4 linked regions of the Homo sapiens genome follow. The protein of the gene in region 1 purifies or fractionates together with the protein of each later gene. This does not show direct contact. Each region holds a gene or a part of one and is shown on either strand. Other genes may lie near its edges.

Evidence for each region. Proteins that work in one complex are often made in the same cells at the same time.
Region 2: the proteins of MTRF1 (region 1) and ATF7IP purify together in Homo sapiens (affinity purification with mass spectrometry; one large-scale study listed by BioGRID and IntAct). This does not show direct contact.
Region 3: the proteins of MTRF1 (region 1) and ABHD18 purify together in Homo sapiens (affinity purification with mass spectrometry; one large-scale study listed by BioGRID and IntAct). This does not show direct contact.
Region 4: the proteins of MTRF1 (region 1) and C1orf21 purify together in Homo sapiens (affinity purification with mass spectrometry; one large-scale study listed by BioGRID and IntAct). This does not show direct contact.

What each region holds. Positions count from the first base shown.
Region 1 is NC_000013.11:41,257,043-41,260,634, reverse strand, and holds part of MTRF1 (peptide chain release factor 1, mitochondrial), read left to right. Parts: coding exon 1-142; intron 143-3,592. UniProt on the Homo sapiens protein: Mitochondrial peptide chain release factor that directs the termination of translation in response to the peptide chain non-canonical stop codons AGG and AGA.
Region 2 is NC_000012.12:14,424,682-14,428,273, reverse strand, and holds part of ATF7IP (activating transcription factor 7-interacting protein 1), read right to left. Parts: coding exon 2,801-3,592; intron 1-2,800. UniProt on the Homo sapiens protein: Recruiter that couples transcriptional factors to general transcription apparatus and thereby modulates transcription regulation and chromatin formation. Can both act as an activator or a repressor depending on the context.
Region 3 is NC_000004.12:128,027,906-128,031,497, reverse strand, and holds part of ABHD18 (protein ABHD18), read right to left. Parts: intron 3,024-3,592; coding exon 2,645-3,023; intron 989-2,644; coding exon 826-988; coding exon of another isoform or gene 822-825; exon of another isoform or gene 1-821.
Region 4 is NC_000001.11:184,385,752-184,389,920, reverse strand, and holds the start of C1orf21 (uncharacterized protein C1orf21), read right to left. Parts: upstream 2,893-4,169; 5' UTR 2,553-2,892; intron 1-2,552.

The DNA of each region.
Region 1 (3,592 bases):
TGTCTGCAGCATATCCCTGTGAATGAGGAAAACCGAAGGTCCTTGAACAGAAGGCATGCTGAGTTGGCACCTCTTGCAGCCATTTACCAAGAAATTCAGGAGACTGAACAAGCAATTGAAGAATTAGAATCAATGTGTAAAAGTAGGTAAAAGATACTTATGTGTCCTGCATAAGGGCTATGAAAAAAAAAACCACACACTTATATGCGTGTGTGTAAGTACAGATTTGATTTTCTAAGTTAAAGCTTTATTGAACTTAGTCTTTGTTTTTTTTTTCCCACAGAAGCAGGTTCTCACTTGTTGCCCAGGCAGGAGTGCAGTGACTCAATCGTAGCTCACTGTAACCTGTAAGTCCTGGCCCCCCACTTCAGCATCCTGAGTAGCTAGGACTATTGTGCCAGGGCTTTCCAAAGCGATATGATTATAGCCACCGAGCCACTGAGGCTGGCCTGAACTCAGTCTTTTAAAAAAACCTACAAGTAATAAGCTCAACACTTGGAAAGAACAGGACTCTGTACCCAGAGTATTTGACACACTTTAGCTACTAAAGATCAATGTACTAAGTAAACAGGCTCCTCGTGGTACTTCCCGTGGTCTCAAGGTCTGGGAGACAAAATGTTGGTCTTTTCAGAAGCTTTATTTTATTGAGCAGACCTTTATTGAACACTGTACCTACATACTAGGGCTACACATACAGTTCCTACCCCATCAGTGGGCTTCTATGGTCCAGTGAGAGAAACTTATTTAAGTATTGTTTATAATGTGAGACCTGCTCTACTAGAGGGAGGCACAGTTTCATGGGAGCAAAGAGGAGAGGGCACTCAAACCAGCCTGGATTGATTGGGTAAATCTTCCTGGAGGGGACTGCGCATTAGTGGAACCAGGAAGGAAGCTTTTATTTTTTATTTTTATGTTTTTTTTTTTTTTTTTTTTGAGACGGAGTCTCGCTCTGTCGCCCAGGCTGGAGTGCAGTGGCGGGATCTCGGCTCACTGCAAGCTCCGCCTCCCGGGTTCACGCCATTCTCCTGCCTCAGCCTCCCAAGTAGCTGGGACTACAGGCCCCTGCCACCATGCCCAGCTAATTTTTTTTGTATTTCAGTAGAGACGGGGTTTCACCATGTTGGCCAGGCTGGTCTCAAACTCCTGATCTCAAGTGATCCACCCACCTTGGCCTCCCAATGTGCTGGGATTACAGGCATGAGCCACCATGCCCAGCCAGTACTTTATTTCTTTTCATTACTGAATTATATTCCATTGTATGGATATACCACATTTTATTTATCCATTCATCAGTTGATGAACATTGAGTTGTTTCCACTTTTTGGTTATTATAAATAACGATACTGTGAACTTTTGTGTACAAGTTGTTTTGTGGACATAGATTGCTGGTTCATGTGGTAACTCTATGTTTAACCTTTTGAGGAAGTGCTAGACTGTTTTCCAAAGTGACTATAACGATTTTACAGCTCTACACACAGTGTATGAGGGTTCATATTTCTCCACGTACTTGCCAACACTTATTATCCGCCCTTTCAATTATTGCCATCCTATGAATGTGAAGTGGTGTGTTATTGTGGTTTTGATTTGCATTTTCCTGAAGATTAATGATGTTGAGCATCTTTTCTGGTGCTTATTTGGCCATTTGTGTATCATCTTGGGAGAAATCACTGTTCAGATCCTTTGCCAGTTTTTAAATTTAATTGTCTTTTCATTATTGAGTTGTGAGTGGTCTTTATCTTCTAGGTAAAAGTCCATGATCAGATATATGATTTGCAAAAATTTCCCATTCTGTGGTTTTCTCTTCACTTTTTTGATACTGTCTTTTGAAGCATGATATTTTTAAATTTTGATGATGTCCAATTTATCTTTTTTTCTCTTGTTGCTTGAGTTTTGGGAGTCGTATCTAAGAAAATTGCCTAATCTAAGGGCACAAAGGTTTACATCTGTGTTTTCTTACAAGACTGACGTATTTTTTATTTTTATCCCATGCATTTAGGTCTTTGATCTATTTTAGTTATTTTTGTATATGGTGTATTTATTTTTTATGTTTTTTTTTTTTGTTTTTTTTTTTAAGAGATGGTCCCTCACTCAAACTCCGGGGCTCAAACAATCCTCCTGCCTCAGCCTTCTGAGTAGCTGGGACTACCGGCTATTTTTTATCTTAGTTTTTTATTTTAGTATTTCTCAATACTGCTATTGCCTCTACATTTTTTCTCTTATGAAAATTTTCGAAAATTTTTATACAGAAGTTGAGAGAAAAGTTTAATGAACTAACCTATGATTCAACATTTATCCAGATTTGGCTATTAACTTTTAGTTTCTAGATTTTCTTCTGTGCTTCATTTTGTTTCATTTAGCCTTAGCAGTATTATGTGATACACAGGCCAGTCACTGTTATACCTGTAAAGTCCTGGATTTTTGAAGCCTTCCATTTTTCTGCCTTCTATTGATGGTACCACAAGTCTCTTACGTACGTTTAATGGAGATATTTTTTACTCTTTTGCATAATGCCACACAGATTTGTAGTTAATTAGTTTTGAGAAGGTTGCTTGTGTATAGTAGAAGTTTATGAAATGCATTCTAATTAAATTGGCATAACTTCTTTCAGCCTTGGTTGTATCATGTATAATATTAGATTGGATTACATCATTTCTAAAGGCTCTACTACCTCTACAATTTTTCTATAATAATAGTAATAATAGCTACATTTACAAAGTCCTCTTATGTGCTAGGCACTAAGCTCAGTGCTTTACAAATATTATCTCATTTGAATGCTCAGGTAACCTTATGAGGTAGGATATATGATTATTCCCCCTCCCCCTTTTTGTTTCTTTTAAGAGACAGAGTCTTGCTCTGTGGCCCAGGCTGGAATGCAGTAGTGTAATCATAGCTCACTTTAACCTTGAACTCCTGGACTCAAGCAATCCTCCAACCTCAGCCTCCCAAGTAGCTGGGACTACAGGTGTGTGCAACCATTCCCAGCTATTTTTTTTATTTTTAGTAAAGATGAGGTCTCACTGTGTTGCCCAGCCTGTGTTTTCCCTCATTTTATACATTTTATAGATGAGGACATTGAAAGGTTAAATTTGCAAAGATCACTCAGCCAGCGAGGGGAGAAGCAAGGATTTGAACCCAAGCAATGAGATTCCAAAGCCTCTGCTCTTATCCACTGCTTGATGGATGATTCAAAGTCCAGCAGGGTCTACCTTTGTGATGTAGCTTGCATGAGTCCTGTTCTATTCCTTCCACTAATTTATATCTTCATTACATCTCTGACTTAGCTGATTGCAATCAATTCCTAACTTGTAGCCCTACCTCTAGGCGTTCTAGTTCAAGTACAATCTTATTCATGTTACTCACCTGTTCCCATTGTCTATAAGTAGAGATTTCTTGGTTTGGTATTTAAAAGCCCCTGCAGATTAACCCCAGCCTCTCCATGTACTATGTTAATTCTCTTTGCATATTCTGCCTTCCAACCAAAATAGACAACTTGCCATTCTCTGGATATATTCGTGCTGTCCCATGTCTGTATCTTTGCCCACGTTGTTAACATGCCTGGTTCACCTTGTTAAAAGCCAGTCCTCTTACAAAG
Region 2 (3,592 bases), on another chromosome or scaffold:
TAATATTCATCTCTCAGCACTTAACTGCCTTGTGTGGGATGCCCTCCAATATCAAGATTCTGACATAAAGGTACTCATTAAATCATAAGCTGCAATTTGCTTTTTTAACTTTCTTATACAGACTTTTTTTTTTTAAAGGACTTATAAGGCTTTTTTATGGACTTGGCCTAGTGCCACACTCTGTATAGACACTTATAGGAAATGGATGAAATTCATTCTCAACACTGTCACCTATTACCTTTCCAAAATGTAAATTTCATTCTCCTCTCTGCTTGAAGTTCTTTATTGGCATTCCAGCGCCATCATAAAGCTTTAGCATTATAACCAAGGTCCTCCATGATATGCTTCTCTTACATTATTGATTATTCATTCACTTTACAAATATTTACTGGGCACTTACTGTGTGCCAGGCACCGTTTTGGCCTGATGATGGTGACTCGCAGCAGGAGTAATAACAGTTGTGAATTGGACTCTAGATCTATTATGATAGTAGTACCAACAGAATTTCCTGATGGACTAATTATGGGGTGTGAAAGAAAAAATAAAAATGGTTCCAAAGTTTCTGGCCTCAGCAAGTAGGATGGAGCTGCCATTAAAAGGAATTAGACTTGGCCAGACGCGGTGGCTCACGCTTGTAATCCCAGCACTTTGGGAGGCTGAGGCAGGAGGATCACGAGGTCAGGAGTTTGAGACCAGCCTGACCAACATGATGAAACCCCGACTCTACTAAAAATACAAAAATTAGCCAGGCGTGGTGTCGCGCACCTATAATCCCAGCTACGCAGGAGGCGGAGTGGGGAGGAGAATCACTTGAACCCGGGAGGCGGAGGTTGCAGTGAGCCAAGATCGTGCCACTGCACTCCAGCCGGGGCAACAGAGCGAGACTCCATCTCGGAAAAAAAAAAAAAGAATTAGACTCATTAAAACCCTATGTTACAGCAGAGCCAATATAGCAAGACCCTGTCTCTACAAAAAAATTAAAATTTTGCCAAGTGTGGTGGCACATGTCTGTATTCCCAGGTACTCTGGGGGCTTAGGTGGGAGGATCACCTAAGCCAGTAAAGTGGAAGCTGCAGTGAGCTATGATTGTGCCACTGTACTCCAGCCTGGGCAACAGAGCAAGACTCTGTCTCACAAAACAAAAACAAGCAAACAAAAAAAACCTCTGTTATACAGATATTAAAAGGGGCAAGACATCCCTAATACATCTGGTGCTCTAATAAAGTTACCTTAATCTGCACTCCCAGAATGCCAATTTAACATTATCACTGTACTCACAGTCTTGTATTTAATGGCCTATGATTTAATTCTTGTGTGTATCCTGAGGGCAAATACTATCTTCAAATCTCTAGAACCAAGAAGGGCCTGGCCTGTCTCTTTATATAGGTTTAGTTGAATGCTCTTTGAAAATAAAAAGCCATCCTTTTTTTTTTTTTTTTTTTTTTTTTTTGAGGCAGGGTCTTACTTTGTCACCCAGGCTGGAGTAGTGGCGCGATCTCGGCTCACTGCAGCCTCGACCACCCAGGTTCAAGTGATCCCCCTACCTCAGGCCCTCAAGTACCCTGGACTACAGACAAGTGCCACCACGCCTGGCTAATTTTTGTACTTTTGTAGAGACGGGGTCTCACCATGTTGCCCAGGCTGGTCTCGAACTCCTGAGCTCAAGCAATCTGCCTGCCTCAGCCTCCCAAAGTCCTAGGATTATAGGTGTGAGCCACCTTACCTGGCCAAAAAAAAAAAAAAAGCCATTTTTTAATAAGAAAAAAATCTCTACCTCCAAAAGCTGGTATGATATATTGGGGAAAAAAGTTGTCTCTGTCTCTTAGACCTGCCTCCATTTTTTTTTCTTTGAAGAAATTAGATGGTGTTTTATGCTAGCAAGGTCACTTCTCTCAGAGATGTCTAAATCTAAAAGAATGTGATATAATGGGAAAAGAAAGGTATTCATGCTTTTCTCAGTCTTCCACAGGCTTAGAAAGTTTCATAGAGGAATAATGTTTTTCAGTTTGACCATAAAAGAAGGTAGAATTTTTCTCATTCTTTTTCTCTAGGAATAATAAATAAAATAAAAGAGATGGGAGAGATAGGTACTGAACAAATCATAAAGTTAATGTACCTTTTACATAAGGAGTTTGAAATCAACCTAAAAGTAACAGAGATCTAAGACATAGACGGACAATATCAAATAAGAGAATTGGGTTACAGGGAGCTCATTCAGAAAATGAGGAAGAGAATAGGTTGGGTAGAATCAAAAGGGCTGAGGGAGCAAATGGGTAAAGTCTTTATCAAATGGATAATCAAGCTTTAAGGTTTCTGGCTTACAACAATGGTGCTGTCATTCCTGGACAAAGAATATTAAAGAACAGGATTTCATTGGGAATATTAATTGAAAATATAATTTGTTACACTTGAAGCAAATAGATTAAACTATTAGGCTTTTAGTTCTAAGTTATTTGTTCGCTAAGTGATAGCAAGAAAGAACTGCTACAACTCTAGTCAATTATGTACTAACTTAAACTGTTATCTCAGTGTTATGGTGCTCTACTTCATCTCTATTTCCAGACTATAAGGGCATATTTTCTACTTATTTTATCTCCCTTCTTAGTATTTAGTACAATGCTACTCACAGAGTACACACACTAATTCTGAATTCTATGAAGTTAAGACATCTTTCTATAGAGTCATCACCATTCTCAACTTTCTCTGCAGCTAAAATAAATTTAAAACATTATGATAATGTTTTATTAAACAGTTCATCAAAGTCAATAAAAAATCTTTAACATTTAAGTTATATGCTAACCTGGAGAGCACGTTTCATTTTGCGATATAACTTCAGACTCATCTTTTTCACCCGAAATATCCTCTTCATCAGAGAGGACCAGAAAGGCTTCTTTTGGCAAACTCTCACTACTTTCTTGTTTAGATGGTGAACCAAAAGAACTTTCCATTTTCTCTTCCAAATCTGGATTTGTCTCATCGATTGGAAGGAGAGATGTTTTAGAAAAGCAAGTAAGTTCATCCTCAGAAGGTGCAAGCTTTTCCAAAATAGGAATGATTTCATCTGTCTCCATAGAGTCTGTATTTTCTAAGATATTCTCACTTTTGTTATCTTCAATAACATTTTCATTAATCGTTTCTACAAGATCTGCAGAAGTTTCATCTTCATTCTTTTCACCTTGGTCAATTTCCATACTGCTAGATATAGCATCTTCTCCAAGAGCAAGCTCTGTGATAATATCTTCCTCTACCTTCTTTTCATTTTCAGGAGGTCGATCTGAACAAATAGTTGTATCATCTGTTTCTAGAGTTTCTTCATTAGCATCAATATTATTATCAGCTTTATTTTTCTCATCCAATGAGTCTTTACTCTGAATTTGCTCTAATTTTTCATCAGCTCCATTTTTTTCAAGAAAATCATCATCTTTATTGCTACTTGGTTCTATATTGTCAATTTCAGGAACTGGTTCACAAACTGGTACAGACTTTGGTTCAAAGGTACGATCAAAGGTTGATTCAGAAGTCAGCTCATCAGAGGCCAGTTCACCAGTGGCCAGATCATCAGAGGCCAGTTCACTAGAGGATAGATCACCAG
Region 3 (3,592 bases), on another chromosome or scaffold:
TAGTTTTAGCATAAAAAAATTTTTTTTTTTGAGACGGAGTCTCGCTCTGTCTCCCAGGCTGAAGTGCAGTGGCGTGATCTCGGCTCACTGCAAGCTCCGCCTCCCGGGTTTTATGCCATTCTCCTGCCTCAGCTTCCCAAGTAGCTGGGACTACAGACATGCACCACCTATGCCCGGCTACTTTTTTTTTTTTTTTTTTGTATTTTTACTAGAGACGGGGTTTCACCGTGTTAGCCAGGATGGCCTTGATCTCCTGACCTCGTGATACACCCGCCTCCGCCTCCCAAAGTGCTGGGATTACAGGCGTAAGCCACCGCGCCCAGCCAGCATAAAAGTTTTTATAAGTTCTAACTAAAATAGTGGAGTCATATAAGGTTGTTCACATTAAAAGCACTTCTTATTTAAGGTTCAATATTCACTTGCTAACTGAAAAACATTGCTAAATTATTCCACAGATGTTCAGGCCATTCTGAAAAAACATCAGAATAGAGTGAAAAAACTCTTGATGCACCAAAGCAACTTTAACAAGCCATGATCTTCCTTCTCACATCCTAAAATACCTGGCCATTAATATTTGAAGAGGGGAAAGCCACACGATAAAGCATGCCTATAATATGCATCATGCTTAGTTCTCTAGAAGAAAATAAGAAGATCAAATTCTAGGAAAGAGGGAAAAGTAACTCTGTGAGATTTGTGGGAGGTGAGGAGGGAATTCAAAGATTGAAACAGACTATAAAAATATGTGATCTTTTACATTTGTTGAAGCAAAAAATCCAGAAAACAAACAACAAATGAACGAATACATGTTTAGACCAGCCGTCTTACCTGAAGAGTCCTTGTTTAAAAAGATAAGCACTAATATGACCCCCTTCTAAGTATCGGATTTCACAACCAGGCCAAATTTCTTGTAAACTTCGAACTCCTGTTCGTGGAATATAGGCATCTTCTTTGGCTTGAACCACTATAATGAGGCTTGGATCAACTGGGACTAGGTATAGGATTTTTAAAAATTCAACATATACACATTAGAAAATAAAAAAACCCACACAATGCAGTAAATAAAACATTCGTCAAACTAAACATTTTTGATTAAATTAAAAATCAACTATAATATGCTACCTTACTCATCTCCAGTACGAGATAAATATTCTAAAAATGATACAAAATACTGTGGTTTTTAAAAATTAACTAATTTATTTCTTTTGTGTGGGTGTGGGTACACAGTAGGTGTATATATTTATGGGTTACATGAGATATTTTGATACGGGCATGCAATGCATAATAATCACATCAGAGTACGTAAGGTATGCATCGCCTCAATCATTTATTTTAAAGATGGGATCTCACTGTATTGCCCAGGCTGAAATGCAGTGGCTATTCATTGGCAAGATCATAGTGCACTACAGCCTTGAACTCCTGGGCTCAAGTGATCCTCCCTCCTTAACTTCCTGAGTAGCTGGGACTACAGGTGAATGCCACCACACTCAGCAATCCAGTGTTTTTCTTTTGGGAGATAAGAGTTTCACTTTGTCACCGAGGCTAGGGTGCAGTGGTGCAATCATAGCTCAGTGCCACCTTGAATTCCTGGGCTCAAGGGATCCTCCTGCCTCAGCCTCTGAGTAGATGGGACTATAAGCATATGCCACCACACCCAGCTAATTTATTTTTGTTTTTGAGATGGAGTCTCACTCTGTCACTCAGGCTGAGTGCAGTGGCATGATCTCTGCTCACTGCAACCTCCACCTCCCGGGTTCAAATGATTCTCCTGCCTCAGCCTCCTGAGTAGCTGGGATTACAGGCACACACCATTACGCCCAACTAATTTTTTATATTTTTGGTAGAGATGAGGTTTCACCATGTTGGCCAGGATGGTCTCAAACTCCTGACCTCAAGTGATCCACCCGCCTTGGCCTCCCAAAGCACTGGGATTACAGGCGTGATCCACTGGGCCCGGCCACCCAGCTAATTTTTACATTTTTGATAAGGACAGGGTCTCACTATGTTGCCCGGGCTGGTGTCAAACTCCTGGGCTCAAGCGGTCCTCCCACCGCAGCCTCCCAAAGTGCTAGGATTATAGGCGTGAGCCACTGTGTCCAGCTCCAGAGTGTGTGAGAGTGTGTGTATGTGTGTTTGTGTGTGTGTGTGAGAGTCTTGCTGTCACCCAGGATGGAGTGCAGTGGTGTGATCTTGGCTCACTGCAACCTCCAACTCCTTGGGCTGAAGCGATCCTTCCACTTCAGCCTCCCAAGTAGCTGGAACTACAGGCTTGCAACACCACACATGACTACTTTTTTGTATTTTTTTTTTTGGTAGAGACAGGGTTTTACCATGTTACCCAGGCTGGTCTTGAACTCCTGGGCTCAAGCAATCCACCTGCCTCAGCCTCCCAAAATGCTGGGATTACAGGCATGAGCAACCACACCCGGCTGTCCAGTGTGTTTCTTAATGAATAAGATAATCTTAAATTTTCATAGATAGAATATGATACATTTAAGTAACCAACTTATCTTTGCAAACATATTCTGGAGCCAACAAAAAAATATACCCTTGAAAATATAAAATTATCTTATAGAGCATCTTTTAAAATATTTCACAAATACTTACACATCAGCAAATATTCTCAATTTCATATAAAAATTAGTACCTGAGAAATTTGCTACATGAGTACATTCATCCATGACTCCTTTCATAAATATTAAAGACTCTTTCCGAAGACTGTTTCTGCTTTGTTCTTTACTAAGTAGGTGGTATGACTGAGGGTTGCGACTTGTATAACCACTTTTGTTGGTTGAAAGTGTTTGATTGAAGCGCTTCATCTTAGAGGTATCTTGCAATAAGAGTCCTTCTGATGTCGCACTGACAGATGTTTTGCTAGAATTATGGCAGTCAGCAGGTTTTTGGGATACAACTTGGTTTGATATATCTAAATTTAAAGTTCTGGAAACCAGATTAAGGTTAGTTAGCTTGTCTGCACTGCTAGTGAAGTGTTTCACAAACTCTTGTCCCATTTTGAAAGAATCTGTCTGAACATATGAAAGGAAAGAAAACATTATTTAATATAAAATAGGGTATTAACAGCTTTGTCAAAAAAAAAAGAGAAAAGACAAATGTCCATCAATGAATAAATGGATAAATAAAATGTAGTATATTCAAACAATTAAACATTATGCAGTCTTAAAAGGAATGAAATTCTGACACATGCCACAACATGGATGAACACTGAAGACATTATCTTAAGTGAATAAGCCAGACACAAAAGGACAAATATTGTATGATTCCACTTGTATGAGGTCCCTATAGTAGTAAAATTCATAGCGATGGAAAGAGAATGGCAGTTGCCAGAGACTGGGAGAAGGGAGGAATGAATAGTTTTGTTCAATGGGTAAGTTTCAGTTTGAGAAGATAAAAATGTTTTGGAGATAGATGGTGGTGATGGTTGCACAACATGTATATACTTAATGCCACTGAACTATGCACTTAAAAATGGTTATGATAGTAAATTTTATGTTGTATATATTTACCATGACTTTTTTAAAAAACAAAGATGTATTAAAATTTAACTCACGACTAAGATAAATGACTTACACTTTAT
Region 4 (4,169 bases), on another chromosome or scaffold:
TTGATAAATTCAAATGAAGACAGTCATATTTATCACCTTAGGACTCTTCTGTAAATATGTCACCTGCCTTCTCCTGCCCTATTGGAAGGTGACATGACATTCCCTCTCCCAGCCTTTGGTGTCTCCTTTAGACAAAAACAAACAAACAAAAAACAAAAACAAAAAAACGTCTTATAGAAGGGGGCTGCTTAGAGCCTGGAGCAAGCCACTCAGAATGTAAAACTCAAAGCTTGCCTGGTCACAAAGGCAACACAGTACTGAGGCATGATTCACTTGGAAATTATAATAGAGCAAACCACCTTCCTCCTTAGTAGGATTTTTGAATAAGTCATAGCAAATAGTACCAAAGCTCTTGAATGATGCCCTGTGATTCTTCAAGAATCAAACCCCTTCAGACAGTGGCCTATTAATTCCCAGAAACCCATGTTGAATGATAAAGTGAGATGGGGCGGAGGAGGGATAAATGTCTAGCCAAGAAAACAAAATTATCAGTTTTCTAAACTCGGAGTTAAATTAAGTCAACCCTGAGAAGGAAAGCTGGAACTTTAAGGTCCTTCTAGGATGAACTTTTAACACTGGAGGATGTGAGACCTCTCTACCACCCAAGGCCATTTTTCTTTGGAAACATGCCCAGTTGTGACAAAGCTAGACAACAGAAGCACCCCGCCCCTCCTCAGGCACCCACCCACCCAAGAGCTGAGCGCACTGGTCTTTGTTGCCCTTTTTAGAAGCCTCCAGGACTGTTCTCTGAAGCAGGTTTGCACAGCAGTAAACATTGAGTGACATCCTCTTTCAACGCTGCATTTGTGATCTGTGAAGTACCAGTCCCAGCATTGGTTTAACGCCTATAAATACACTCCGTTGTCCTATCACTGGTACTTCCTACTTTGTAAGTAGCAAAACAAAAATAGGTGATCCAATCCAAATTAATTTCCATGTCTGACAATTACATTTCCAAACAGCCAACATGGAACATGTTCTATTGATCCTACAATCCAGCTCTAGACAATATGAAAAAGGGGGGAAAACTCCAAATTCAGCATCTTGAACTTAAAAGACCCTTCAGAAACATCACCTTCTCCCCACAACAGTGCTGAAGTAGCTCAGGCCCACTCCACCTATGTTTGTTTCTATCCTGGTACATTCCAATTCTATCAAATCAAAAGGTTATTCCTATTAGGCAGAAGCTGAACCCATCCCCTTGAATAGGGAGGTGTTCATTACATCTGTCTGTGTAATGAACTTGTCATTTCCCCAAACGGTCTGGACAGTCTCCTACAAAAAAAAAAAAGAAAAGAAAGAAAAAAATACTCCATGGAATCTATGGTGTGTCAGTCCCCTTCCTAACATCTGAGTCAGACTACGTGTGTCTTTACTGAGGTTCTGGGTGCCCAGGGTGTATCACTTTCAGAATTGCTTCAGTAACTGAACTATGGCTGTCTTCCAGCCACGGACAACACAAGCACTATCTATTTTAAAACAATTTTCCTAACCCACCGGCAATGGAAGAGATCCCATAGGTCACCGACTTCCTATTGAAAACAAATTATTTCTCTCTCAAACTGCTTGCCGTCTCTCAGAATTAATGCGTGTTTATGTGTGCATATTTTTATCTTTGGCCATGCAACTCTTGGAGCAAAGAGGACCACCCCAAATTTTACCGACATGCCTGAGCCATTCAGAGCTTTAGAAGAGAAATGAACGAGTGCTGAGAGCCCTTAAGCCCAGGACTTCTCTCACACAAACAGTAAGTGGAAAGGAAAAAACAAAAACAAAAACAAAAACTAACCCTCCGTAGAGGGAGGGAGCAGGGTGGATGATAGGGAAAGGACATTAACCAGCAGACCAAAGGCAGCCGCGGCGGCGGCACTTCGCGAACTGCCTGCAGAGGAGAGTGAAATCTGTTTCGTGTACAATAACCAAGCACCCTCTGGCTGCCTCGCATGGGCACGAATAATAAATACACCGAGGTGGGCAAACAGATGCAACGAAACGAGCCACCCCAAAAAGGTCAAAACTTCAGAAATCCCGGGGGTCAAACCACCCACACAAACACATCAATCAGTCGGAGCGAGAGAAGGGACTTGGATACTTAGCAAAGGATCCTAAATTGTGTTTTTCCTTTCAAGCTCTGGCTTGCAAAGTACGGTGGCTACATGCAAAGCTAGAGGAGAGCAGGAAGGCTGAGGGCGGCAGGGTGCGGGTGGGAAGGGAGGGGTGTCTAACACCAGCCACCCAGGCCTCGATGTGACGAAAGTCGTCAGCAGCCCCGACCACATCCCAGCCCCTCCGCCCAGGCCGGCAGACGCCCCTCGCGGCTCCCCCACCCCAGCTTCCGTCCCTGGCAGCAACCCCGCCAGCCCCGCACCAGCAGCAGCCCCGGCCCGGGCCCCGCGCAGGCAGCGCCACGACCGCGGCTCCCATCCCTTCCGTGCGGCAGACACCCCGCAGGCCTCCCTCCCTGCCCACCCGGGGATGCCCGGGTAGCCGAGCCGGGGCGGGCTGCACCGCCAGCTCCCCCCGCCCCAGAGCAGGCAATGGCTCACACTTACCTTGGGCGTTCGCGGGGGGGCTGAAGGTGGCAAGCCTCCCGCCCCCCGCCCCTGTCCTCCTCGTCTTTTTTCTTCCTCCCTCCTCCTCTTCTTCCTCCTCCTCCCCACAGTGTGTCCGGGGCTCCCCCTCCTCCCCGCCGCTTGGAGTAAGAACCCAAAACCCCGAAGCCGGGCCCGCGTGCAAGCGTGCGGGAGGCGGCGGCGCGCGGCCAGCTCTCCAGTAACTGAGCGCGGCGCGCAGCTCCCAACTAAAGTGTGAAAGAAGCAGCGGCCGCGGCGGCCGCGGCACGGAACGTCCCCCCGGGAGTGGGCAGGGAGCGAGCGGGAGCTTGCGAGGAGCGAGCGAGGGAGGGGAGCTCCTCGCTCAGTCACTCACTCGAGGGGCGGGGGCAGCAGACACTCCCCCACCGCCGGCCCCTCCCCGAGCCTAGCTCCCGCGCGCGCCTGGCTCTCCTCCCCGGGGCGGGGCCTGCGGAGGCCGCCGGGGCGCAGCGCGCTGGGGAGCGGGTTGGGGGCTGCTAGGGCTGCGGGGCGGGAAGGAGGCGGCAGTGTGTGTGTGTGTGTGTGTGTGTGTGTGTGGGCAGGTGTGTGTGTGTGTGTACGTGTGTGCGCGCGCGCCCTGCAGCGGCCGGCCAGCCGGAGGGAAGACCCCGGCGGGAAGACTGCGTCCCGTCCGGCCTTCCCGGGCCTGTCACTTGGGCGGTGGCGTGGGAGCGGCGAGGCTGCTCGGGGGGCAGCCGGGTGGGCCCAGCTCTAGGGGAGATTCGGGTCAGCCCCTGAGCCCAGCCTCCCGGCTGTGCCTGCTGGAAGCAGACGGAGGGAAGGCCGGGCGTCTTTGGCCCACCGCGCGGCCGCTCCCCTCCCGGGCCAGGCTGAACGGGCGGGCGCAGCCCAGAGGCCCGGGCTCTGCCACCGATCCGCCTCCATACTGACCCGAGCTGCGGCGCCTGCAAGATTAATGAAGCATCCGCGATTCGGTAGAGGCGGCACGGGGAGGAAAGACACAAGATCGTGCTGCCCCCCTCTCCCCACCCTTCTCAGCCTCCTAGGACCTAAAGGCGTAGGCTGCGTCTGCTGGGCGCGTCCGGAGTGGTCCAGAGAGATCGCCATCCACCACTGCATCCGTCCAGTTCTTTGTGGACCCTCACAGAAGCTCAATCAATTTCCCACCCTCTGGAAAAGGGTATTTTTCTCTTCCCTGGCATATTGGGTGTTTCTTGTGTGCACCTAATTGATCTTTTTCCATTGATAGCCTTTGGATGTCTTTTGTGCGGCTTCCCCGCGCTTCACTGCTCCCTCATTGCCTTAGACACGCGAGGAATGTCAGGCCCCCAGAGTGAGAACACCCAAGAAAACAATAGGGGCAAAAGATCCTCCCTGGGCCTCGCGGATTATGCACAAACCAGATCATTTCCCACATTCGGCCAGGGTGAAGATGGAAAATGGAAAAGAACGCCATCAGAGTGGTGACACTGACGAGAAAAGCCAATTCATAATTTAGTTTAATGAAATGAGTTAGTAATCAACCACTAATGTCTAGGAAATTGGCCTTTTTTGAAAACTGGTTTTCCCTTTCTCCACCCCTTTTTTTTTCAAATTAAAAGACTAGTATCCCAC